Regions from separate parts of the Homo sapiens genome. Here regions 1, 2, 3 and 5 are each linked to region 4. The links come from fine-mapping of genetic effects on gene expression. A gene starts in region 4. Each other region holds a variant in brackets. All regions are shown on one strand. Distances are from middle to middle.

Evidence for each region. PIP is the estimated chance that this variant, and not a neighbour inherited with it, causes the effect.
Region 1: its variant is fine-mapped to the expression of HSDL2 in hypothalamus (GTEx, PIP 0.92).
Region 2: its variant is fine-mapped to the expression of HSDL2 in monocytes (Fairfax 2014, PIP 0.95).
Region 3: its variant is fine-mapped to the expression of HSDL2 in CD8 T cells (CEDAR, PIP 0.92).
Region 5: its variant is fine-mapped to the expression of HSDL2 in whole blood (INTERVAL, PIP above 0.99).

Annotation. Positions count from the first base shown.
Region 1 is chr9:111,592,146-111,597,145 of GRCh38, forward strand. PTGR1 (prostaglandin reductase 1) reads right to left here. Exons shown (of 10, transcript NM_001146108.2): 3 at 2,077-2,122; 4 at 781-837. Among named protein-coding and RNA genes, the nearest start is that of PTGR1, 5.0 kb to the right of the region's middle. RefSeq lists an enhancer at 1,764-1,933. The variant G/A (reference allele first, on the strand shown) is at 2,399.
Region 2 is chr9:112,542,403-112,547,579 of GRCh38, forward strand. All of the region lies in intron 1 of KIAA1958, which reads left to right. Among named protein-coding and RNA genes, the nearest start is that of HSDL2-AS1, 57 kb to the left of the region's middle. RefSeq lists enhancers at 3,787-4,081, 4,713-5,177. The variant T/G (reference allele first, on the strand shown) is at 2,475.
Region 3 is chr9:112,519,837-112,525,013 of GRCh38, forward strand. All of the region lies in intron 1 of KIAA1958, which reads left to right. Among named protein-coding and RNA genes, the nearest start is that of HSDL2-AS1, 35 kb to the left of the region's middle. The variant C/CTTTATTTATTTA (reference allele first, on the strand shown) is at 2,125.
Region 4 is chr9:112,377,460-112,382,636 of GRCh38, forward strand. HSDL2 (hydroxysteroid dehydrogenase like 2) reads left to right here and starts at 2,649. Exons shown (of 11, transcript NM_032303.5): 1 at 2,649-2,721. The coding sequence starts at 2,705. It also overlaps a transcript of PTBP3 not described here. RefSeq lists enhancers at 1,833-1,882, 1,983-2,232, 2,232-2,831, 2,263-2,382 and a silencer at 2,603-2,852.
Region 5 is chr9:112,310,299-112,315,298 of GRCh38, forward strand. The region is part of intron 1 of PTBP3 (polypyrimidine tract binding protein 3); the gene reads right to left. Among named protein-coding and RNA genes, the nearest start is that of PTBP3, 21 kb to the right of the region's middle. The variant A/T (reference allele first, on the strand shown) is at 2,203.

The sequences.
Region 1 (5,000 bases), 790 kb before region 4:
TAAGGCATACTCCCTTCTGAGAATTTCTGGTCTAACTGATTGTCTAGCTTCACCTCCTGTTTCTATGGATTGTTTGTAACCAGCTTTTGCTGCAACTGTTACTGCTGATTAATATCTTGCTAATCATAGGTTATGGAAAGACTGTGTTTCTGTTTTAAGGCTCTGTTAGAAATTACTGATGCACACACTATATTGTAAATTCTTATCTCTGTATACTGTACTTCTGCATACAGATGTATGTTAAAGAATTACTTCATCCCCATGTGACCATCTCACCTCATAATCAAATGACCCTAAATCCCTCACTAACCTACCCCCGCCCTCACTAAACTTAATAATAAATGCGGGTATATTCAGTGCTTTGGTGGCACCACGGAACCAGAAGGCGGTGACGCCCCTGGACCCAGCTTTCACTATCTTGTGTGTGTCTATTATTTCTCAACCTGCCGATCCACCTGGGAACAAAGAGAGAACCCTGTTGCATTGTGGGCTGCTGGCCAGATCCCGCAATAAATCATGACCTGGACAAATACTTTTTTTTTTTTAGTAATTAAAAGTAAGGATGGCAAAGTGAAGCTGAAAAAATGACAATTTCACATCCTTCCCTCCTTTCCAGCTAGTTAGGAAGGAGACAGAATTTCCCAAGTTGATTCCAAGATCACACAGTGAGTCAACAACATAGGCTGAAGAAATTGTAGGAGCAATGGACAGAGACAGGACCCAGCAGGAGGTAAAGAGGAGACATATTTTCCAAGCACTGGGACAAATGGAAATAATTACTTGGCCACTTGCTGCCCCATCATTGTATCACCTTCCTTCAATCTTTTGGCTGCCACTCTGCAAAAAAAAAAAAAAAAAAAAAAAAAAAAAAATAGGTAAATAAATAAAATTCCATTCTTAATACATAGGAGCATCGGGGGACTGTTTTGAGTTTCAAGCCAAATGAAAAACTGCTGGATAAGTGTATGCGGCAATAAAACCCAGACAGATGAAGGGCTACAACTAGGTGAGATACAGGAGGAAAGCTGTTAGAGGAAGTTCTGCTCTGTGACCTCAGATAAGCACTCTGATTGGATTTTTTTATGAGTGAACACAAAAGTCTTACTGCCATGTTCAAGTAAAGATGAATTTCTACCAATGACTTTAAAAATAGAACCCAGGCACCACTGGGTAGTTATTACCCAAAACACTAGCTACGCAAAAAGATGCCAATTAACATTTTTAAACTGTATTTTCCACTTAAGATTTGAATCTTTATCAATCAGCTATGAAAAAAATGTAAAAGAATGATGGCTATGTTATTTACCGAGGCAAAAAAATACTGAGGACTTAGTAGTCAATAAAGGCTTTTGATTTCCTCCCCTCCCTGAGTTGTCTGCTGAGTATATAAGTTTGAGTCAACCACAGATTCACCTACATTAAAAGAATACAGGTAAATGGAAGGCCAGAAAAACTGATTTTAGTCTTAGCATCTTCCTCTATCCAAATTACTTGCCAGTAGTGAAATGCACAAATTGGGGTTTGGCTTCTTTTTTCTTTATGAGACGGGGTCTTGCTCTGTTACCTAGGCTGGAGTGCGGTGGCAAGATCTTGGCTCGCTGCAACCTCTGCCTCCCTGCAACCTCTGCCTCCCAGGCTCAAGTGATCTTTCTGCCTCACCCTTCTGAGCAGCTGGGACCACAGGCCTGCGCCACCAGGCCTGGCTACTTTTTTTGTATTTTTAGTAGAGACAGGGCTTTGCCATGTTGCCCAGGCTTTATTTTTTTCTTTTAAGGTTTTTTTTTTCCTTCTTTTTTTTTTTTTTTCTGGAAGTAATTCTGTTGAGCAGTGAAAGGCAAATTGTGCAGAGCAGATAGGAGATGGTTGGGACAAAGGGACTGAGGTGATCCCTCACTAAGCTACTTAGACCTTTGCCTGCAAAAGACGAGCGTGCATGAATCTTATCACTGATACTGGCTGGGAGAAACAGAAGGAAAGTGACAATGTTTTAAGTCAGTTGGATATTTTAGAAGATGAACTACTTCCAGATAGCATTTAACACAGCATTAGCATTTTGAGGGGCGAAATAAATAATACCTCATGTAGGGATCCACGGTGAGGAACAAAGCTTCAAGCAGGACCTCTACAAAATAAAGCATTCCATAGGCAATTAGAAACTCAAGGCCTGAGAGGAACAATAGACACTGAGCACCACTAGACAGGAGGGGTGAGACAGGGACAAGGGTTGAGAAACCACCCATGAGGTACCATGCTCACTGCCTGGGTGACAGGATCATTCGTACACCAAACCTCAGCCACATGCAATTTACCCATATAACAAGCCTGCATATGTACCCCTAAAACTAACATAAATGTTGAAGAAAAAAACGGAACTCAAGGCCTGATGCCTTCGTTTTTG[G/A]CATTCTTTTTTTTTTTTTTTTTTTGAGAGGGAGTCTCGCTCTGTCACCCAGGCTGGAGTGCAGTGGCGTGATCTTGGCTCACTGGAAGCTCCGCCTCCTGGGTTCATGCCATTCTCCTGCCTCAGCCTCCTGAGTAGCTGGGACTACAGCCGCCTGCCTCACAACGCCCAGCTAATTTTTTGTATTTTTAGTAGAGACGGGTTTCACCGTGTTAGCCAGGATGGTCTCAATCTCCTGACCTAGTGATCCATCGTCTCGGCATCCTAAAGTGCTGGGATTACAAGCGTGAGCCACTGCGACCGGCCTCTTTTTTTTTTTTTTTTTTTTTGAGACCTAGTCTTGTTCTGTTGCCCAGGCTGGAGTGCAGTGGCTTGATCTCTGAACACTGCAACCTCCATCTCCCAGGTTCAAGTGATTCTCATGCCTCAGCCTCCTGAGTAGCTGGGATTACAGGCGCCCACCACTGCACCCAGCTAATTTTTGTATTTTTAGTAGGGACGGGGTTTCACCATGTTGGCCAGGCTGGTCTCGAACTTCTAACCTCAAGAGATCTGCCCACCTTGGCCTCCCAAAGTGCTGGGATTACAGGCATGAGCCACCATGCCCAGCCTGTTTTTGGTATTCTAAAAAACCACAGATAATACTTCTGCTTCAGGAATGTCTTCCCATCTGTGCTTCTATCGCAGAGACAAGAAGGGGTTCTCATTTTTGGCCCAGCCCAGTTAATAATAATAATAATAATGGTAATGCTATTTACTCAGCACTCATTCCATGCTTTACACGAATTATGTCATTTGATATTCAACAAATATTGCTTCCATTTTAGGTTAGGCTTAGTTACTTGCCCAAGGCCACATTTAAACCATTATGTTACAGTGCTCACCATATGGCTTCATCGCCAGCCCCAGTTGGTGTGAGAGAACATGCATTTTGCTGGAGTGACTCTCATGTATTCATTCTTTGGAATTTTGAATTTGAGTCATGGCCATCATAGCTTAGATGGGACTGATCACTTTGTCATGCTACTTGATTGCGTCCCCTTTTCTCAAATGCTTACCTACCTGTAAACACTCCTTAGAGACTCATCTTTATTTATTTATTTTTTTTGAGATGGAGTCTTGCTCTGTCGCCCAGGCTGGAGTGCAGTGGCGCGATCTTGGCTCACTGCAATCTCCACCTCCCGGGTTCATGCTATTCTCCTGCCTCAGCCTCCCAAATAGCTGGGAGTACAGGTGCTCACCACCACACCCAGCTAATTTTTTGTATTTTTAGTAGAGATGGGGTTTCACTGTGTTAGCCAGGATGGTCTCGATCTCCTGACCTTGTGATCTGCCTGCCTCAGCCTCCCAAAGTTCTGGGATTACAGGTGTGAGCCGCCACACCCAGCCGAGACTCATCTTATAGTCTGAACTCTTCGTATAGCTACTGGGCAGTGCTTACCTCACTGCCATCATCAGGCTTATGAGGATAGAGAGGACATCCTCCCCATAGTCTGGTCAAAGCCATGAAGAGTAATGCACTCAAGCATGAATTTCAGTTATCAATGAAAGCAGGGGAATCCTGCCATGTGACATCGAGGATTCACACTGAGAACCCTGGAAAGGTCTTTGTGGCAGATTGCAAAATGGCCACAAATAACTCCCACCCTTGTGTGCTTGTCTCCTTGCCACTTCTCCCATCAAGAAATCTATTTTCTGCCTCTCGAATCTGAGCTTGGTTTTGTGATTTGCTTTGACCATGGGATATTAGCAAACGTGGCACAAGTAGAGGCTTGAAAAGGGCTTGCACAGCGGGGCATGGTGGCTCACACCTTTAATCCCAGCACTTTGGGAGGTCAAGGCGGGCTGATCATCTAAGGTCAGGAGTTCAAGACCAGCCTGGCAAAGATGGGAAACCCCGTCTCTACTAAAAATGCAAACATTAAGGCCGGGCACTGTGGCTCACGCCTGTAATCCCAGCACTTTGGGAGGCCGAGGCAGGTGGATCACCTGAAGTCAGGAGTTCGAGACCAGCCTGGCCAACACAGTGAAACTCCATCTCTACTAAAAATACAAAAAAAAAAAAAAATTAGCCGGGCGTGTTGGTGGGCGCCTGTAATCCCAGCTACTCAGGTGGCTGAGGCAGGGAGAATTGCTTGAACCTGGGAGGCAAAGGTTGCAGTGAGCCGAGATTGCTCCACTGCAATCCAGCCTGGGTGACAGAGCAAGACTCCATCTCAGAAAAAATACAAAAATTAGGGGGGCATGGTGGCGCACACCTGTAATCCCAGCTACTCAGGAGGCTGAGGCAAGAGAATCGCTTGGACCCAGAAGGCAGAGGTTGCAGTGAGCCAAAATCATGCCACTGCACTCCAACCTGGGCAACAGAGCAAGACTCTGTCTCAAAAAAAAAAAAAAAAAAAAAAGAGAAAGTGCTTGCACATTGGAGCTTGCCAACTACTGCTGCTCTAGATCTATGGGGCCACTATAAGAATAGAGCTCAAGCTAGCCTGCTAGAAAGGCCACATAGATGAGAACTAAGGCATGCACCCCAACAGAAAGCCTGCTAATCAGCAGACATGTGAGCAAGGCCCATCCTAAATTAACCATTTACCCCAGATGA
Region 2 (5,177 bases), 160 kb after region 4:
TAAAGAGGATATATTCATGAATATAATCATTATAAAGAAAATATTCACATTTATTGAATATTTTCACAAAGAATATATTCATATGAAGACTAAACTACTCTACAACTCTTTGCATTTTACAAATTAGTTTTTAAAATCCTGCTATGAAGCAGAGTGTAAATCATTCTACTAAAATTTCACTGAAATCTTCGAAAAGTGAAAAAGTATAAATTTGGTATCTTCAGTGAATTGATCTATTTATGAATTGGCTCCTAGTGAATAGTTCTTGGCAAATTAATTTAGAGCCCTCTCTCTCTGCATGAGATGAACCATTATTTATTACTGCATCTGCCCTGGGAAAACCAAGACAAAAAGAGGGGGATATTGAAAACAGCTGGGCTGAGTGTTCAGAACAGACTGATTAATAACACTAAAGAAATAAAGGTTCTTGTTAGAAGGAAGGCCTGCAAGCCACTGCATGAGATTTAAGGACCACAGGTGCTCAGGCTGGTGAGACTGGTATGGCAGGCAGTATTTTGGGGCTGAAGAGTTTAGTGTAGTTACCATGTGCAAAATGATACAAGTTTAAGTTTACTCATAATAGAAACTGGAAAATTACATGGCTTGCTTCGGGAGTTCCTCACTTCATTTTGTTTTGGTATTTCAGAAAAGAAATTCTGAGGCTTTAGACAGTTTGCTACTCACAGATCTCATAAATCAAGCATTCTTCATGACCTGGATCTATCTTGAGCAGATCAAAGCTCTGAGCAGCTTGAATAGTGCTCACCCAGAGGCTTACTGCCAGTAACAACCCAAATTTCTTAGCCTATTTGTTTTTGTTGTTGTTGTTTGTTTGTTTGTTTGTTTGTTTTAAAGCAGCAGTAAAACACATTGTGGGTGCACATTTTTTGGAAAAACCAGAAGTTCAAATATTAGTAAAATATTTGGACTTAACATTTTATGGGCACTCAGAAGTAACCATCAACTTCACATGTATCTCTGAGCAAAATATTAACCACTAATAACCATTAGTAAATGGATGCTGAGTGGGCCAGATCTTGCTGACACCTTGGTTATATGGTGTTTTGTGTGGGATATTAGTTTTCTGAGGTTTGTACAAAGGAATTTGTAAAATGCTTAATTTTATCATTAACTTTACCACTTTACCATTGAGCTTCTGAGCTTCTTTTTTTTTTTTTTTTTTTTTTGAGACCCAGTTTTGCTCTTGTTGCCCAGGCTAGAGTGCAGTGGCATGATCTCGGCTCACCTCAACCTCCACCTCCCAGGTTCAAGTGATTCTCCTGCCTCAGCCTTCCTGAGTAGCTGGGATTACAGGCATGCGCCACCATGCCTGTCTAATTTTGTATTTTTAGTAGAGATAGGGTTTCTCCGTGTTGGTCAGGCTGGTCTCGAACTTCCGACCTCAGATGATCCACCCGCCTCGGCCTCCCACAGTTCTGAGCTTCTTAAAGTCAATACCCATGTCCAATTTATATTTGCTGTGCTATTGCATCTAGCACAATTTATTGTGTGTAGAAGATGCCTAAAGTTTGTTTTTAATGAATACATATATGAAATGTCTGTCATGGAACTATCTATTTTCCTTTTATTTGTATTGCTATTTTGCCCATTAACTAAAGGATATGGATGGTAAGCCTTGTCTATGTCTCTATTGTCTTAGTAAAGATGCCCTTTTTTCTTGTATATCCAACCTTTGTGCACTAAAATCCTCTTTCCCCACAGCTTCACAGAATACTAGATTCATTGTTTAGCCCTTTTCTTATCTGTAGCCTTCTTTACTGTAAAGTGGAGGGAAAATGTTTAGTGATTTGAAAAGTTTCAAAATTTTTCTGTACTATTAGACTTGAATGAATGTCAGATCTGAGAGGGCCCTGCGAGACCACTATTCAATCCTTTTGTTTTACTCATGAAAAACTCAGAGTTCTAATTGCTTTCGCACTATAACTCATGCCATGCTATTTTGTAATTGCTTAGTTGTTGGCATTTCTAGCTAGACTTTAAATTCAGTGGGAATAGGGACCACATCTATCTTATTTAATGCTGTATTTCTGACACAGCACAGTGCTTAGAAGAGAATAGGTGTTCAGTTAATGGTTCAGTTATGAATAAATAAATAAATAAATAAGTCAGGATTGGTGAAGGGACTTGCTCAAAGTCATGTGACTATTTAGGGGGCAGCCCCCAGTTGCTGAATCTGTTAAGCACATTAAAAGTCAGAGCTCTGTAATCTACTCTGCCATCCTGGAGAGAGTCAAGGTCAGTGGAAATGACTAATTTTTCTTAAGTGTGTTTGTTAAGCTCTGCAACTTATACATTTCCACATGTTGGCTTTCAGTATACCGGAGACTGCTATATAGGAAAGCAGCTGACCAAGGAAATGTAGAGGATGTGCTGCCATTATTTTTGCCTTGGAGGCTTTTTCAAGAGACACTTCTACTTTTCAAAGCAGTGAAACTTCATCTTAGGAAAAGAAA[T/G]TTTCCCCAGCTACAATCTAATTTTTAATCTTTTTTTTTTAATTTTAACTTTCCACACTATACCATCATATTAATCTTATTTTTAAATGTATTGTTTCTGAAATCCTGAGTGCCCCAGCGATCAAAAACTCTGCTTAGGATTCAGTTCATTAATGTGAGGGCTCAGACTCTTAAGGTACTTATAAAACCTCAAGGACTATTGATACTGGTCATTTGTGAATTCAAACAGAAACTTCCAGAATCATCATGACCTTTTAAAGTTTCATCCTTAGTTTTTCTGGTCTACCGTTGACCTCCATTAATGATCCCAAATCTGCTTGTTTTGCAGAAAATAAAATGTGTACGTGGTCACAGAAACGGTTGTTACCTGATGATCTTTAAGATCTTGGAGTATAATACTGTGGGTCATTGATGTCTTTTACTGTTAAGTTCCCCATCAGTACCTATATTCACCTTTTGACTGCATGGTAAATTGCTTTGCTTATGTATGAACTTAGGTACTTGTAATGAAGTCAGAATTTAAACCATATTGAGGGAGAATGGGAAAAAGAATAAGACTGGAAAGGAAGAAACTGTCAAGTCAGGGTTTGGCTTTTCTTGTTATATGCCATTCTATTAAAATATGTATATTTTTGTACTTTTTTTGAACATATGAAATGATCATATTTTACTTGACATTTATCACTTATTTAGCAGCAGAAAAATACATGTAAATGGAAATGCTATCATCCCTTTGAAACATGTCTTTTTAACACTTAGGATTCGTGCTATTTGCCAGGAGGGAGTTTTTCTACTTACAGAGCATCTGGGAGATGAATTGGAAAGGCAGACTTCTGGTCTGGTTAGCACTTTTGTTGTTTTTTATTTTCTTTTTGGGTCCCATATTCATGAAAGATTTGTCTTAGCATTTTTAGATAAATATTTCTTTAGTGATACACAGGTTTCTTTGTTTTTTTTTTTTTTTTTTTTTAGTGAATTTCAAAGAATAATGGCTGCCATTCTTGGATCTTGGCCTTTATTGATTTGGATATTATTGATGTATGAAATACATAAACTTGTCAGATGCTTTGTGAGTCTCTCCTGATCTTAAGGCATTTTAGAGCATCTAGTAGTAGAGTGTCCTTGAGTTAGCTAAATTTATACTTATTTTGAGGCTGGCAAATTTGTGTAATATTGATGACCTAGAAATGAGATAGGAGTTCTGCAGGACTGGTTTCACATGATACAGGTCATAAAGACCCCACTGAGAAAACAGGATGAGGTAAAGAATCTGGCCAAAACCCGCCAAAACCAAGATGCCAATGAAAGTGACCTCTGGTTGTCCTCACTGCTCATTATATGCTAATTATAATACATTAGCATACTAGAGGAAACCCCCACTAGCACTCTGACAGTTTACAGTCATCATGGCAATGTAGGGAAGCTACCATATATGGTCTGATGGGGGAGGAACCCTCAGTTCCAAGAATTCCCTGCCCCTTTCCTAGAAAACTTATGAATAATTCACCCCTTGTTTAGCATATGATTAAGAAAAACCATAAAAATAGCCAACTAGCAGCCATCACAGCTGCTCTTCCTATGCAGCTGCCACTCTTTTATTCCTTTGCCTTTTTTTTTTGAGACAGAGTCTCACTCTGTTGCCCAGGCTGGAGTGCAGTGCTTTCTTAATAAACTTGCTTTCACTTTACTCTGTCTGCTGGCTCTTGAATTCCTTCCTGTGTGAAGCCATGAACCCATGTGGCCTCCCAAACTGAACTCCAATTTTGAGGTTTGCCCTGTAGAAAGGAATATAGTTTGAATTGAACAAATATTATGATTGTTGTATATTACATGCTTCTGCTGTACTGAATTTTATGTTTCTCAGAGTTCTATGTCCTCTCTTACCTGGAATACTCTCACTCTCTCTGCCCTGTGTAATTTAATCATGGTTATCCTTCAAGTATGAACTCGTCTTTTCTCTAGGAAGCACTCCTTGACTCGTTGGGAACTAGGTTAGCTACTGCCTCTCTGTGCTCCTTGACACCCTGAGCTTTCCTACCAGAGTTGTAAACCAGAAATAAGAAATATGTATATATATATATTTTTTGAGACAGTCCCGTCTGCTGCCCAAGCTGGGGTGTGGTGGTGTGATCTGCAACCTACGCCTCCTGGGTTCAAGCGATTCTCCTGCCTCAGCCTCCCAAGTAGCTGGGACCACAGGCGCATGCCACCACTCCCTGGCTTGGCGCGGTAGCTCACTCCTGTAATCCCAGCATTTTGGGAGGCCGAGGCGGGTAGATCACCTGCGACCAGGAGTTTGTGACCAGCCTGGCCAACATGGCGAAACCCCATCTCTACTAAAAATACCAAAAAATTAGCTGGGAGTGGGGTGCGTGCCTGTGGTCCCAGCTACTCAGGAGGCTGAGGCCTGAGAATCACTTGAATCCAAGAGATGGAGGTTGCAGTGAGCCACAGTTGTGCCACTGCACCACAGCCTGGGTGACAGAGCAAGACTCTGTCTCAAAAAAAAAAAAAAAAAAAAAAAATTCTAAGTCTCCCCAACTAACTGAACGGACCCCTTTTCTGGGACAAGGGCATTCCAAAGTTAACCTGAAAAACTAGTTCGGGCCATGATGCGGGGTTGGGGAGTCAGACATGCTTCATTATACCCTCCTTCCTTTGGAGTTCAGACACAATTGGCCAGCATTAACATTAAAATAGAGA
Region 3 (5,177 bases), 140 kb after region 4:
ATTGAACCCCAGTAGATTATATTCATGTAATTGTTGTATTATTATAGCATTTAATTAGTATTTCAGTAAGTGCTGATATAAATACATCAGCTTGTCTCTTGTTCCTAATTATACAATATTGCAGGAAGTGGACTAGTATAATAAAAGAGGGGCTTCGGTCCCCTTGGTGATATGTCATCTTAATTAAGATCAAGGAGTTCTTAAGTTTTGTGTGTATGGGAAAATGGCAAAGTGAAAGCAGTTCTTTGTCATTTTACACTGGGCTTGATGGATTAAATTGGTTAGTAGTAAGGAGATGGCAAATTAATTTGTTTTTGCATTTCCAAAACACTTAAGATGGAAAATAGAAAAGATAGAGGTAGATGGACATGCTATCTGCATATTACTGCTAACGAAATCTAATTCAGTCTTTAGCACTGGCTTTGAGTAGAAGCACTACCTTCAGTTGTAGATAAGACAATGAATGTGGTATAGTCTCAAATAACTAGAGGCCAAATGAAATTGATATATTGCATTAGTTCTGCATTATTTATCATGTCTGATAAAGCAACAGCATATGCTTGATGCTTTTACCATCATCTACATGATACTCTATATTACTCCAAGTGAGTGACTATATTGGTCCTAGGTTAACTTTCACAGTAAGAGCTGTGGTATTCTGTATAAATTAATATCCCCAAACTTAAACTATAGATAGGAGAGTGGCAGAAGAAGCAGAAGCACTGATTGAAAAGGAAGTGAAGAAACAGAGAAATGAACAGGGTGTTGAAACTGAGAAATCAATGAATTTTTCACAGTAATTATACACTGTAAGTGATTCTAAAAGAGGAAATCCAGACCATCAAGAAAATACTGAATACAAATAAATGTTAATTTTTAGTTCCCAATAAGAACAAAGTCAAAATACAAAGAATAAAAATGGAAGCTAGAAATACTGATGTCCTGAGTTTTCCTTCTAGGAATCCTTTTTAGACCATCTGTGGTTTGAATCAAGACAGCATATGTTGGTCCTTTTCAACATATGAAACATATCCCCAGCACCTGGCATGCAGTACGTGGAAGTTAGGCGGTGCTAAATAAATGATTTCTTTAAATCTTTTTTTTCTTCATGATGTAATGTGTGCCATCTCCTTCTTTGTTTTGTTTTCTATTTCTTTAATTTCTCCTTTACATTATAAGCCTTTTCTTCTTGTTTCTTTTGTCGTGTTTTAAACTTGTTGGGTTTAATATTTAAACAATATTTTTCAATTAAAAAAATTTTCTAATAAAGGCATGTAAGACAATCCGTCTTCCTGGGTTCTTTGCTTTGCCTGTTTTCCTTAGGTTTTAATGTGTCAGTTTCTTGTATTTCTAAATAGCCTATGTTGTTGTTGTTGTTGTTGTTGTTTAAAGAGATAGGTCTTGCTCTGTTGCCCAGGCTGGAGTGCAGTGGTGCAATCATAGCTCACTGTAACTGCAAACTCTTTGGGCTTAAGTGATTCTCCCACTTCAGCCTCTTAAGGAGTAGCTGGGACCACAGGTGTGTGCCACTATGCCCGGCTAATTTTTTAAATTTTTTGTAGAGACAGGTTCTCACTCTGTTGCCCAGTTTGGTCTCAAACTCCTGAATTCAAGTGACCCTCCCACGTTGGCCTCCCAAAGAGCTAGAATTACAGGCGTGAGCTACCATGCCAGGCCCTCTGAATAGTCTATATTAATTAGAATAATATTTTTTAAAGATTTTCTCTTAGATTATCATGTTAATTTTTAGTTTTATTGCATTTCAGTCATAAATATGGCCTATATGATTTTTGCACTTTGGAATTTTGAGATTTTCTTTGTGGCATATTGCATGATAACTTTTGAGAAATGTTCTGCAGGCACTGGAAAAGAATATATATTCTGTATTTGAAAAAATACATATTCAGGTTTAATTGTTATTCTGATTTTTATATCTGTCTTGAATTTTTCTTCTAATTTAGTTTTTTAAAAAAATCAATAGGATACATTCTCTTGTTATCCCCATTGTTAAAGTGCATTAGACTGATTACTGTGTGCCCTTATATGCCCTTAAATGAAATGTCTTTATTTTTCTCCACACACTTGAATAATCATTGCTGGGCATAGAATTCTGGTTTTAAATAA[C/CTTTATTTATTTA]TTTATTTATTTATTTATTTATTTATTTTGAGACGAGTTTCGCTCTTGTTACCCAGGCTGGAGTGCAGTGGTGCAATCTTGGCTCACTGCAACCTCCGCCTCCCAGGTTCAAGCAATTCCCCTGCCTCAGCCTCCCGAGTAGCTGGGATTACAGGCATGTGCCACCATGCCCAGCTAATTTTCTATTTTTAGTAGAGACGAGGTTTCTCCTTGTTGGTCAGGCTGGTCTCGAACTCCCGACCTCAGGTGATTCACCCGCCTCGGCCTCCCAAAGTGCTGGGATTATAGGCGTGAGCCACCGTGCCCAGCCACTTAAAGAACTTTTTCCTAAGAAACTGTAGACCACCTTTGCTATCCTCTAGTATTTCATGCTTCAGATAAGGGATCTTACTCTTTTTTAGTGCTTTATGCCTAATACTCCAGCAATAGTCACCCAGGTTTCACCTTGTCCTGTTTAATATCTCTTCCACCTCTAAGTAGCTCTGGGCCTGCTTTCCTTTCACCTGAGTCACATTTTATATCTGTCCAGTCACTGTGCTGTATAGATCTACCTGGTGTATACGCCTAGCCTGGGTCTTTGTTGGGGCCATGATTCTCTCCTCCTTGGTTTCATTCCAAGGATGTGATTGGCTTGATATATGTGATCATTCTCATTGCTTGCTTTGACCTTGGGTCCTGACCCTCATTGACCCAGTTGGGACCAATTACCTTACTTTCACTTACCATATCTACTTATTTATGGCTCCATCCTTGGTTATAGTCAAAAAGCTCAGCCCCTTTACCCAGCCCTGAGACTAAAGCTGGGCAAGATGAATGTTCTAAAGTCCTAGTTGAGAAGGTCTCAGCTCAGTCCCCAGTGGGTCCTTGGAACAGCCCAGGATACCAGAGCAGGTGCTCATTCCCATTGTGTCGACCCTAACATCTGACATCTACCTCTTGGGTTACAGCAGGTGAAGTAGAAATTTGAATCCACATGGCCCAGATTGCTTTTAGAATGGATAGTGGGAGTACTCTCAAGTTAACAGGTGTAGGTAGCTTGAATTATCAAGATACAGGGCTATGCGATGACAACTGGGCAATGTCATTTCTACCCACAGCACAGCTAGATACCATCATAGCACTCATCCTCACAGCCACCCCTCAGAAATGGATTTCTTGTTTGCACTTATGATTCCTTATTTGAGAAGTGGTATTACATTCAAATGCTAGGGATTGAGGGTGGTTCCATTAGGATGCTGAGATTTTTCAGTTACCTGGAAATTGGTTGTGTTCATTTTAAAGTACTAACCAGCCAGCCTGGGCAACATGGTGAAACCCTTCCTCTACAAAAAAATACAAAAATTAGCCGGGCGTGGTGATGTACACCTGTAGTCCCAGCTACTTGTGGGGCTGAGGTGAAAGGATTGCTTGAACCTGGGAGGTCAAGGCTGCAGTGAACCGAGATCGTGCCACTGCACTCCAGCCTGAGTGACAAAGTGTCTTATTAAATAAATAAATAAATAAATAAAGCACCAACCGGTAGATATGTGGTTTTAGATTTGTCCTGGATTAAATGAAATTTAAACCATTTATCAGATCTGGTCTCTGGCCTAGAATTTCCTCACCTTGTTTTATGCTTTTGAAAGTCCTGGGAAGAATAATCCTGAATTGGACTCAGATCTCTTGCTTTTACTCTTTGACTTCATGGGTGGATAGACACTGTTTCGATGGGGAGTTATGTTCTCAGAAGTTACCACATGTATCAAATATGCCCCAAGTAGAGAATATACATAATATGCAAACCCCAGAAATGGTTTAAGACAGGACTCAAGTATGAGTTGATAACTGAGGGAACACTTAGGTTTGTAGGTGATGAAGCACAATTGCAGACTGCATTGTGGAGATTTTGAGTTATTCTTACTTTGGGGCCATAGTTTCCCATTCCCCTGACTCTCCCTGCTTACTCTCTCCACCTCCACATATACAAAAGGCTTTAGTGGCTCTTCTAGCCAACTAATATACCCCTTCTAGTCGAGTTTCTAAAGAATGGTGTGTATGTGTGCATGCACCCCTCATCCCATCCTATTTCCTTTTGATTTCAACTATTTTTTTAAACGTTAACCATTTCCCATCTATATCTCCACATACCCAGAAGCCAACAAAATGCCACCAGTGGCACAGACGTTAAGAGTTCTGAGGGATCAATACAGTTCTGAAAGAGATTTGTGTGTGCGTGAGATTTGAGAAGGGGTTCTAGTTATGGTGCTGTTGAAATAAAATGTGGATGGATCCAAGGCCCAACCAAGGACATGTGAAAACTGAGAAAACCAAAGCATGGGCTGTAGAACTGGACTGTAGGAATTGACTCTCTTTTGTGTATTGAACAGCCATTTACAAATTCATGGCTTTGGCGTGCTCCGCGCTTGAAGGGGGTCTAGTTTAGTGACCGGTTTCAGTTTATGCTATACCTCGGAAAATATGGAGCGACTGTGACTGAGAAAGCGGCCTTAAAAAAATTGTAGTAAAATACATATAACATAAAATTTACTATCCTAACCATTTTAAAGTATGCAATTCAGTGGCATTAAGTTCATTCACATTGTTGTGCTACCATAGGCTGCTTTCTTTTATGATGCTCTAGAAAAGTGAGAATTCTTCTTTCCTGACTAGTGCAGTGTTATCCAGAGATCTTTCTGTAGTGATGGGAATGTTCTCCTTCTGCACCTTCCAGTGTAATAGCCACTAGCCATCTGGCTCTTAAGCAGTTGGAATGTGGCTTCGTAAGGAACTGAATTTTTAATTATATTTAATTTTAATTATTTTAAATTTAGCCACTGTAGAAGAGGATTAGCAAGTCTTTAATGACCCTAGTGCAGCCCTGGAATCCTGGGGTTGCTGGTTCACAGCGCCCTGATGCTTCCAAAGGAGTCAAGGCTTATCACTATGGTAAACTAGGGTTGCATTTTCTCACAGAAATGATAATATAATTCTGGTTGGCTGTGTTATCTGGGAATATTCTATACTTCTGCTCAGCAGAATAGGCTCAGTGAGATTCTTTTGAGTGGCCTGAGAAC
Region 4 (5,177 bases):
TCATGCTGCTGAGGATCATGGAAGCACCTTAGTTCCCATTGTCAAGCTTAGTTGTTCAGCTCTTCCTTAAGTTATATAAACTATCCCAGAATTCTTCTAAATTCTCCAACCCCTTTAATTTGGTTTAAATTAGCCAAATTACATTAATGTTGCATATAACCAAAACTTAAGGGATATAAATTGGTTGGGAGAATGTGTTGTAACCAGTAGTCTGTCAGGAAACTGTTGCATTTTTAGGTAGTTTTATCAAGCTGAGAAGGGGTGAAATGAGTGAGACTTACCTGACTTTCAAGACATCTATTTTTCAAACCATTTGTTTTCACTTCTTTACTGTGTTATCACCATCCTCCCAGGACTTTACACCAGAAATCTGAAGGTCACCACTGATACCATCTTCCCCCTTTGCTCCTACATCTAATCATTAGTTACATCTGCCAGGTTCCATATCTTGAGTATGTCTTTTCATTTCTACTATTACTGCCTTAGTTCAGGTTACTACTTTTCTTACACATTACATTACTATGGGCTTTTAAATGGCTTCTGTGCCTTTATCTACTCACAAACTATTCTTCATGCTGCAGTCAGAAGTGTTCTAAGCCAAAATTATTCACCTTCCAAAATGAAGATCTAATTATGTTCACAAGTCCTCTCCTTCACCCATTCCTCACCTCTAGCATTAATCTAACACTAGGTTAATCAAGGTAATGGGGTAGAAGGTCATGGGTAACTCCAAATCACACTTTAAATGAACTCTAGTCAAAGTACTGAATACAATGGATTTAAACTTGCTTGGTAAAACTACCTCTAATAATTTAGGAATATATTTGCCTTCTGTGAAAGCCATCGCAAAGTATAAAAATAGTGTAAGTACAGGTATTTAGGCTCACAAAATATCGTTATGACTGAAAAATTGGCAAAGGTTTTTTGTTTGCTTTGCCTCTTCGTTGAGCTCTCTTTCCGTAACAAATGGAAATAGAAGCACACAAATTCAAGAAAGGAGGCTCTAACAGACTGAAGATATTGTGGCTTTCAAAAAGGAGAGAACATTTTAGATGATATGAAGGAAATGTCACCCCGTTACTAAGAATTCACTCTATTCGACAGATATATACACGCTTCAGCAAGTGCTCCTAAGGATGAGAGGAGAGTAAGTTATTTTCATCTAACAGTCTCTATCAACACTCTTCTTAAAACACCTAATGCTTAACAACAGTCTAAAGAACACACTGGCTACTCATACCTCCCATAGGCAGAGACCTTGTCCTTTTTGAGCTGCTGTATCTCAGGTAATCAGCAATCACTTAGTGGATGATAATAATTTGCAAATTCCTCTGGAGCCTCTAAAGACCGTATCATGAATCATCAATTCAAATGCCTACAGGAGTCGGGCAGGTGATATGCAGGAGGAAATAGAGTCATTTAGGGCCCATAACAAAGGGGAGAGAGGCCGGGCGCGGAGGCTCACGCCTGTAATCCCAGCACTTTGGAAGGCCGAGGCGGGCCAATCATTTGAGGTCAGGAGCTCGAGACCAGCCAGCCCAACATGGCGAAACCCCGTCTCTACTAAAAACACAAAAAAATTAGCCAGGCGTGGTGATGCATGCCTGTAGTCCCAGCTACTCCGGAGGCTGAGGGAGGAGAATCACTTGAACCCGGGAGGCGGAGGTTACAATGAGCCGAGATCCGCGCCACTGCACTTCAGCGTGGGCGACAGCGAGACTCCGTCTCAAAAAACAAAACAAAAACAAAGGAGAGAGTACATAAGCCATCTCCAGGCTAGTTTCTTTAACTAGTCTTCATATAATAATCTCCTCAAGGTCCTGTTCTATCCCTACAAAATACAAAACAGTTCCTCGTGTCTTCCTTCAAATATACTACAGTCTTTAGCTCATCAGAGTAGCTGAGTTAGTCCAAGGCATAATCCCAAAAGCGAAACTGAATGTCAGAATTGATCTCATTTCAACACTCATTCCAGAAGTAGAAACTTCTGCAAGTTCAGCTTTTGACTATGAATTCTTCAGCGCGACTTTTGCAGAGAGCTCTGTTCCAAGAAGCTGGCGCCTTAACACAAGCTATCTACCGATGCACAAGGGAAGGCTGGCTTGGGTCCAGATTCGGCGGGAGAGTGGAAACGCGACGCTGGCCGACTTCAGCCACAAAGGCAATTTCTGCCCAGGGCTAGCGTTCCTAAGAGGGGGCCGAGAGAACGCCAGGCTCGGGCGTAGGGGCAAGAAGACCCAGAGCTAACGCACCTCTCGGAGGGCCCAAGCTCAGGGCTCAGTCACCCTCCCAGCTCGGAGCCGGCGCTGGAACACAGCGGCGCGAGGAGAAACCCCTAGAGACAGGGAAAAGGTGGACGTAGCGGCTGACGCTGCCCAGACGCTAGGCGCCGACAGGAGCCTGATTGTCACCGTACGACCAGTGAGGGGGCGGGGCGGAGCTGTGCCTCAAAGCGCCTGCGCGGAGAGCCTGCAATCAGGGACCAGGCTTGGGAGGCGACGAAGAGGAACGCTGGGCGCAGGAGGCCCACTGCATACGCAGGCGCACTCGGCGATCCCGGCTTTTCCGCGCGCAGTTCCCGCACAGGCATCGGGGGGGGCAGGGGCGGGGCAGGGGCGGGGATAAATGCGGAGGGACGGTCCAGCTTTAGCTCTCTGCTCGCCGCCGCCGCTGTCGCCGCCACCTCCTCTGATCTACGAAAGTCATGTTACCCAACACCGGGTAAGGGGGTAGGGGCGGCGCGGGGAGAGACCCTGTCGGGCGAAGGGCGCGTCTCGGTGGGGCCGCCGCGGATCGCCCGGGCTGGCCGGCCCGGCTGTGGGAGGTCAAGGATACTGCCTGGGCACGCTCTGAGCTCTGGTCCGCGCTGGGCACTGTGCACCGAGAATCTGCGGTAACGTGTGAAAAGGAACACAAACTTTTGTATTACAGGATGGCAGCAGTGTAGAAACCTTTTCCACGGGTAAAGGGCCGAGGGGGAGTCACCACGCCGCCCCCAGTGCCGGCCCTCCCTGAGTTTAGCAGGAGTGCGTGCCTGGCCGAATGCGTGTGAGTTCTAGGTGAAAGGTCGCAGGAGCAGCTCCAGAGTTTAAAGAGTTTTCACTTGTTCCTGACGCTCAATTCTAGAGTAATAATGGAGTGTTTAAAAAATGATTTCCAAATTAGAAACTAAACCGATCTTAAAACATGGGTATCTTTGGGGGATTTTTTTTTCACCTTAAAAAATTGTGTTAAAATACGTACAAAATCTGCCATCTTAACCGTTTTTTAAGTGTACACTTCAGTAGTGTTAAGTAGATTCATATCGTTGTGCAGTCAATCTCCAGAACTTTTTTCATCTGCAAGCTGAAACTCTATCCATGAAACAACTCCTCTTCCCCACCTCCGCTCGTACATTGGCAACCACCATTCTACTTTCTGGTTTATGTAAGGTCTGGGTATCTTGAGTTGAGTGACGTGTTGTCAGATTTTGTAATTTGCCTGAAACATGCAGGCATATAGCCAAAGACTTAAAACAGTTCAAAGAGTATAGGGTAAAAAGTGAGTCTCCCCATCCCTAAAATCTAGTTCCCCAGTTACTTACGTTTCTATTTCGTGCATGTATGAACATAATTTGTATACATCCGGATACACACACACACACACACACACACACACATACCCTTTCTTAAAAATAGCAGCAGACTCTATTCTTGGTCTTGCTACTTTTAGTTGGTATGTCTTGGGACATTCTTTCTTTGTTTTTTTTAAAGACGGGGTCTCCCATGTTGCCCAGACTGGCCTGTAGCCTTGAACTCCCAGGCTGATGTTCCTCCCTTCTTAGCCTCTGGAGTATTTAGGATTACAGGCATGCACCGCTGTGCCCAGGGACATACATTTTTAGTACATGGCAGATCTTCCGCCTCCTTTTTTTTTCTTTTGAGATGGAGTCTCGCTCTGTCTTCCAGTCTGGAGTGCAGTGGCATGATCTCGGCTCACTGCAGCCTCCGCCTCCCGCAATTCTCCTGCCTCAGCCTCCCGAGTAGCTGGGACTTCAGGCGCGTGCCACCACGCCCTGTTGATTTTTTTGTATTTTTAGTACAGACGGGGTTTCACCATGTTAGCCAGGATGGTCTCAATCTCATGACCTCGTGATCCGTCTGCCTCGGCCTCCCAAAGTGCTGGGATTACAGGCGTAAGCCACTGCGCCTGGCCCCTCCTCCTTTTTAATGGTTGCATAATATTCTGTAACAGCTTGAGTATCCATTATCCAAAATGCTTGGTTCCAGACGTGTTCGGATTTCAGATTTTCAGATTTGGTTTGCTCAACCTGTATATGAATATACCTTTGTTTATTTAACCTGTTCCCTATTGTTGGATACTAGACTGTTTCCAGTTTTTTGGATACTCTTTTTTTGCTTCCATAATTATACTTGTATTTATCTATTTGCACATATATAAGTGTATATGTAGGATAAACTCCTGGAAGTGAAATTGCTGGATCAAAGAGTAAATGTGGCTGGGCACAGTGGCTCACGCCTGTAGTCCCAGCACTTTGGGAGGCCGAGGCGGGCGGATCACTGGAGGTCAAGAGTTCGAGACCAGCCTGGCCAACGTGGTGAAACTCCGTCTCCACTAAAACTACAAAATTACAAAAATTACAAATACAAAAATTAGCTGGACCTGGTAGCGGGCACCTGTAATCCCAGCTACTCAGGAGGCTGAGGCAGGAGAACCGCTTGAACCTGGAGGCGGAGGTGGCAGTGAGCCGAGATCATGCCACTGCCCTGCCCTCCACCCTGCGAGAGAGAGTGAGAGTCTGTCTCAAAAAGAAAAAAGAGGAAATGCACTTTATATTTTGACAGATATTTCCAGATGACCCCCCAGAAGGGTTGCACACCCAAAAGGATAAATGAGATCCTCTAATCCCACTTGTTGGCTAACCGCAAAATAGTTAATGATGAAAATCTAATTAGAGAAAAAAGTGTCACCTCATTATTGTTAAAATTTGCATTTATTTTATCACAAGTGTGGATTTGGATCTCTTTGTGTATTTAAACCAGGGACAATTTGATCCCCAGAGGACATTTGGTAATATCTCAAGACATTTTTGATAGTCACAATTGAATGGAGATGCTAATGGCATCTCGTGAGTAGAGTACAGGGATGCTGGTGCACATCCTACAATTCACAAGCAT
Region 5 (5,000 bases), 67 kb before region 4:
TTAACAACAAAATATCAACACTTTTTTTGAAGACAGCATATTGAATATTTTCTTTAATGCCTGCAAGTAATTCCTCTAAAAAGCCTTCTAATTCATGATATCCAATCAAAAAGACATTCATTTGTATATTTATTCAGTTCTTACCATACAGGTATAGCCCATACATATTGAATTCAGTATGTATAAATGTGTTAGCAATAATATTCATTCATTCAACAAATTCGATAAATATTTACTGAGCCACCAGCTATGTGCCAGGCCTTTAACCACTGGGGAAGATTAGGGAACAAACGAAATCCCTGCCCTTACCTTAATGGAGCTTACAATCTTGCACAAAGAAACATAATAATCAAAGTAAGTAAATTATGTATTATGTCCTAAAGTCTTAAGTGCTTCTTAAAAAGTAGGAGAAAAAGCATCAGGAGTGCCAGAGGTGAAAAGAATTTCAATTTCAAATAGGACAGCAAGGTACGACTTAAGAGAAAAAGGCATTTAACCAAAGTCTTACAAGTAGTAAGGAGTAAGCATGTAGATATCTGAGGGAAGAATGTTGTAGGTAGAGGAAACAAAATGCCTTGCATGTTCTGGAAAAACAGTAAGGAGGCAATTATGGCTGAAAGAGAATGAGCAAGGGGAGAAGTAAAGAGATTAGAGAGAAGGTGTGTCATAGCATGCAGGGCCTTAACGGCCATTCTAAAGAACCTTACTCTGAGCGAAATGAGGGAAAGAGAGTTTTGAACAGGAGTGAAAAGATCAATTTGCTTTTTTAAAGGATCACTCTGGCTGCTGTGTTAAGAACAGTCTTTAACAAGACAAAGAGGGAAGGACTCTGGTTAGGAAGCTGTGATGATAATCCGGATTAAGGGCCAGGGCAGTTGCAGTTATGGTGGAAAATGTGTTTTTTTTTTTTTAATATACGATTGGCCCACCGTATCCATGGGTTCTGCATCTGTAGATTCAAACAATCACAGATTGAAAATATTTGGAAAAAAACTGCATCTGTATAAACATGTACAGACTTTTTTTGTCATTATTCCCTAAGCAATACAGCATAACAACTATTTACATAGCATTAAATCGTATTATAAATAACCTAGAGATGACTTAAAGTATTCAGAAGGAACTGAGTTAAGTTATATGGAAATACAGTTGACCCTGAACAACATGAGTGAGTTTGAACTGCCCGAGTCCAAATGAGGATCAAAAATACAGTATTCCCAGGATGCAAAACCCAGTTATATGAAGGTTGACTTTTTATACATGCAGGCAGACTTCACCTATACAGAGCCAACTGGAGAACTTGAGTATGCATGGATTTTGGCCCCCCCTAGATACTGAGGGACAACTGTACTCTGAAACAGATTTGCTAGCCAGGCACAGTGTATCAGGCCTGTAATCCCAGCAACTTGGGAGGATGAGGCAGGATAGCTTAAGGCCAGGAGTCTGAGACCAGCCTGGACAAGAGCTAAACCCTGTCTCTGAAAAAAAACGGTTTTTTAATTAGCCGGGTGTGGTGACTTATGCCTGTAGTCCCAGCTACATGGGAGGCTGAAGCAAGAGGATCATCAGAGCCCAGGACGTTGGAGGCTGCAGTGCTCTAGGATCGTGCCTGTGAGTAGCCACTGCACTTCAGCCTGGGCAACATAGTGAAATCCCACATCTTTATTTTAAAAAGAAAAAAAGAGTCAATGTAATGAAACAAAAAGACTGAGGACCTATTTCAGATTAATTTCCTGATTTTGTTAACTGTATCACAGTAATGAATGGGAAATTCTTTGTTTATAGGTAATACACTCAAATATTTAGGGGTTAAAGAATAAACTCTAGTCTCAAAGCATCTTCCAACAAATCATTGATTACGAAAAGAAAATTGGTAACTTTACAATGGAAAAGCCTGGCAGAAAATCACCTTAACCAAGTGATTAAGACATAAAAAAAAGTGGGGAAGCTAAGGCAGGAGGATCACTTAAGGCCACGAGTTCGAGACCAGGCTGGGCAACATAGTGAGACCCTGTATCTACAAAACAACAATAACAATAACAACAACAATTCACTGAGCGTGGTGGTGCATGCCTGTGGTCCCCAGCTGTTCAAGGACTGAGACAAGAGGATCACTTGAGCCCAGGAGATCAAGGCTGCTGTGATCTGTGTTCATACCACTGAATGAACGAGACCTTGTTTTTTTTTTTGTTTTTTTTTTTT[A/T]AAAAAAAAAAAAAGGACGTGTGTGTGTGCGTTTACATCTATAGAAAGACTATATATGGAAGGGGAAATGGTAAGACAATCGGGGAAATGATAAATGAAAAATGGTGCAAATATGAACTGGGTAAAGGATATACGAGTTCTTTGTACTCTTCTTATAATCTTTCTGTAACTTTATATTAAAATAAAATTTTAAAAAATAATAATAAATCAATGAAATTCACCACATTAGTACACTAAGAAAAAATAAACTGTTAAAAAGCAGGCCGGGCACAGTGGCTCATGCATGTAATCCCAGAACTTTGGGAGGCCAAGGTGGGCACATCACTTGAGTCCAGGAGTTGGAGACCAGCCCAGGCAACATGGCGAAACCCTGTTTCTACAAAATACACAAAAATTAGCCAGGTATGGTGGTGCATGCCTGTATTCCCAGCTATTCAGGAGGCTGAAGTGGGAAGACTGCTTGAGCTCAGGAGGTCAAGGCTGCAGTGAGCTGAAATTGTGCCACTGCACTCCAGACTGGGTGACAGCAAGACACTGTTTCAAAGAAAAAAAAAAGGAAAAGGAAAATCAAAGTACATATGTGGTATGTACACACTATGGTAAGCTATCAGATAAAGATAACATGATCATATAAGAAAGTCTTACCCATAGTAATTTACAACAAAAAAGTACTTGCACTTACATAATCTTACTCTGACATTAATAAGACTTTTTTCTTTTAAGAGACAGGGTCTCGCTCTGTCACCCGGGCTGGACTGCAGTGATGTAATCACAGCTCACAGTAACCTCCTCTCATGGGCTCGAATAATCCTCCTACCTCAACCTACCAAAGCACTGGGACTACAGGTGTGTGCCACTACACCCAGCCTAATAAGTTATTTTTATATTCATTTCTTCAATATTTATTCACCATTGTGAGCAGGCAGCTGTATTGTTTATCCATGCCTGGATAACTAATTACTCCAAAATTTAGCAGCTGGAAAAAACAAATATTTTGTAACTTAATTTGTGGAAGTCAGAAACCTGGACATGGCTTAGCTAGGTCCTCTGGAGAGTCTATCACAGACCGGAATCATCTCAAGGCTTAACAGAACACATGAAGGATCCACTTCCACACTTACTCAAGTGGTTGCTGGCAGGACTCAGTTTGTACATGGGCCTGTCCATAAGATAACTTACAACATGGCAGCTCACTTTTATCAGAGTGAGCAAAAAGAAAGCAAAGCCCAAGTCTTTTGGAAGCTAATCCTTTTAAGTAGATTTAAGTCCACCATCTCGCCATTTGTTGTCTTTGGCTCAACTGTTCTTTAACCTATCTTAAACATAGATAGATTAAAAGAAAAGGAAAAGGAATAGGAAAAAAATACAGTCAGCTCTCCATACCGATGAATTCATCCATGGATGAACCAACTGACGACGGAAAACATTTGGGAAAAAAAGTTCCACAAAGTTACAAAAAGCAAAAGTTGAATTTGCCATGTGCCAAATACTACCTTAAATGAATCCACGCAAATGAGGTTATGTGTAAGCACTGTATTAGGCATTCTAAGTAATCTAGAGGTGATTTAAAGTATACAGCAGGATGTGCTATAAGTTATATGCAAATACTGCTCTCTTTATATAAAAGACTTCAGCCTCTGCATCCACAAATTTTGGGGTCCTTGGGAAGTACTGGACCAATCTCCCAAGGACAAGAGGGACAAATGTATACCACACAAATACCAATCATAAGAAAGCTGGAATGGCTACATTAACATTAGACAAAGTACACTTCAAGATAGGAACTATTACTGAGATAAAAATGTATATTTCACAAGGAGACAAAAGGTCAACTCATCAAGATATAACACTCCTAAATGTGAATACATATAGTAACTGAGCTTCAAAACACGTAAAGCAAAAACTGACAGAACAGCTGGGTGCAGTAGCTCGTGCCTCTAATCCCAGCACTTTGAGAGGTCAAAGTGGGAGGTTCGCTTGAGCCCAGAAGTTTGAGATCGGCCTGCACAACAGAACAAGGACTCATCTCTACAAAAATTTAAAAATTAGCCAGAGACAGCGGTGTGTACCTTCAGTCCCAGCCACTCAGGAGGCGGAGGCGGGAGGATCCCTTAAGCCTAGAAGAGAGCCTGGGCTAGAGAGCGAGACCCTGTCTCAAACAAAACAAAACAAAACAAAAAAACAAAAAAGAAACACCTCACAGAACTACAAAAAGAAATACACAAATCTACAATTGCGGACAGAAATTTCAATATTTCTCTTCTCTTTAACAGAATAAAAAATCAGTAAAGATACAGAAAACCTGAATTTCAACCAGTCTGTCCCACTGACATTTTTTTTTTTTTTTTTGAGACGGACTCTTGCTCTGTCACCCAGGCTGGAGTGCAGTGGCGCGATCTCGGCTCACTGCAAGCTCCGCCTCCCGGGTTTACACCATTCTCCTGCCTCAGCCTCCCAAGTAGCTGGGACTACAGGCACACGCTGCCATGCCCGGCTAATTTTTTGTATTTTTAGTAGAGACGGAGTGTCACCGTGTTAGCCAGGATGGTCTCGATCTCCTGACCTCGTGATCCGCCCACCTTGGCCTCCCAAAGTGCTGGGATTACAGGCATGAGCCACCGCCCCCGGCCCCCACTGACATTTAAAAGGCACTACACCCAACAAAATTAGACTACACATTCAAGTGTACACAGAACATTCATAAAGACAAACCATGTTTAACATAAAACAAACTTCTGGATACATAAAGGGACCGAAATGATACAAAACATCTTATCTGATCAAAGTAGTAAGCTTTA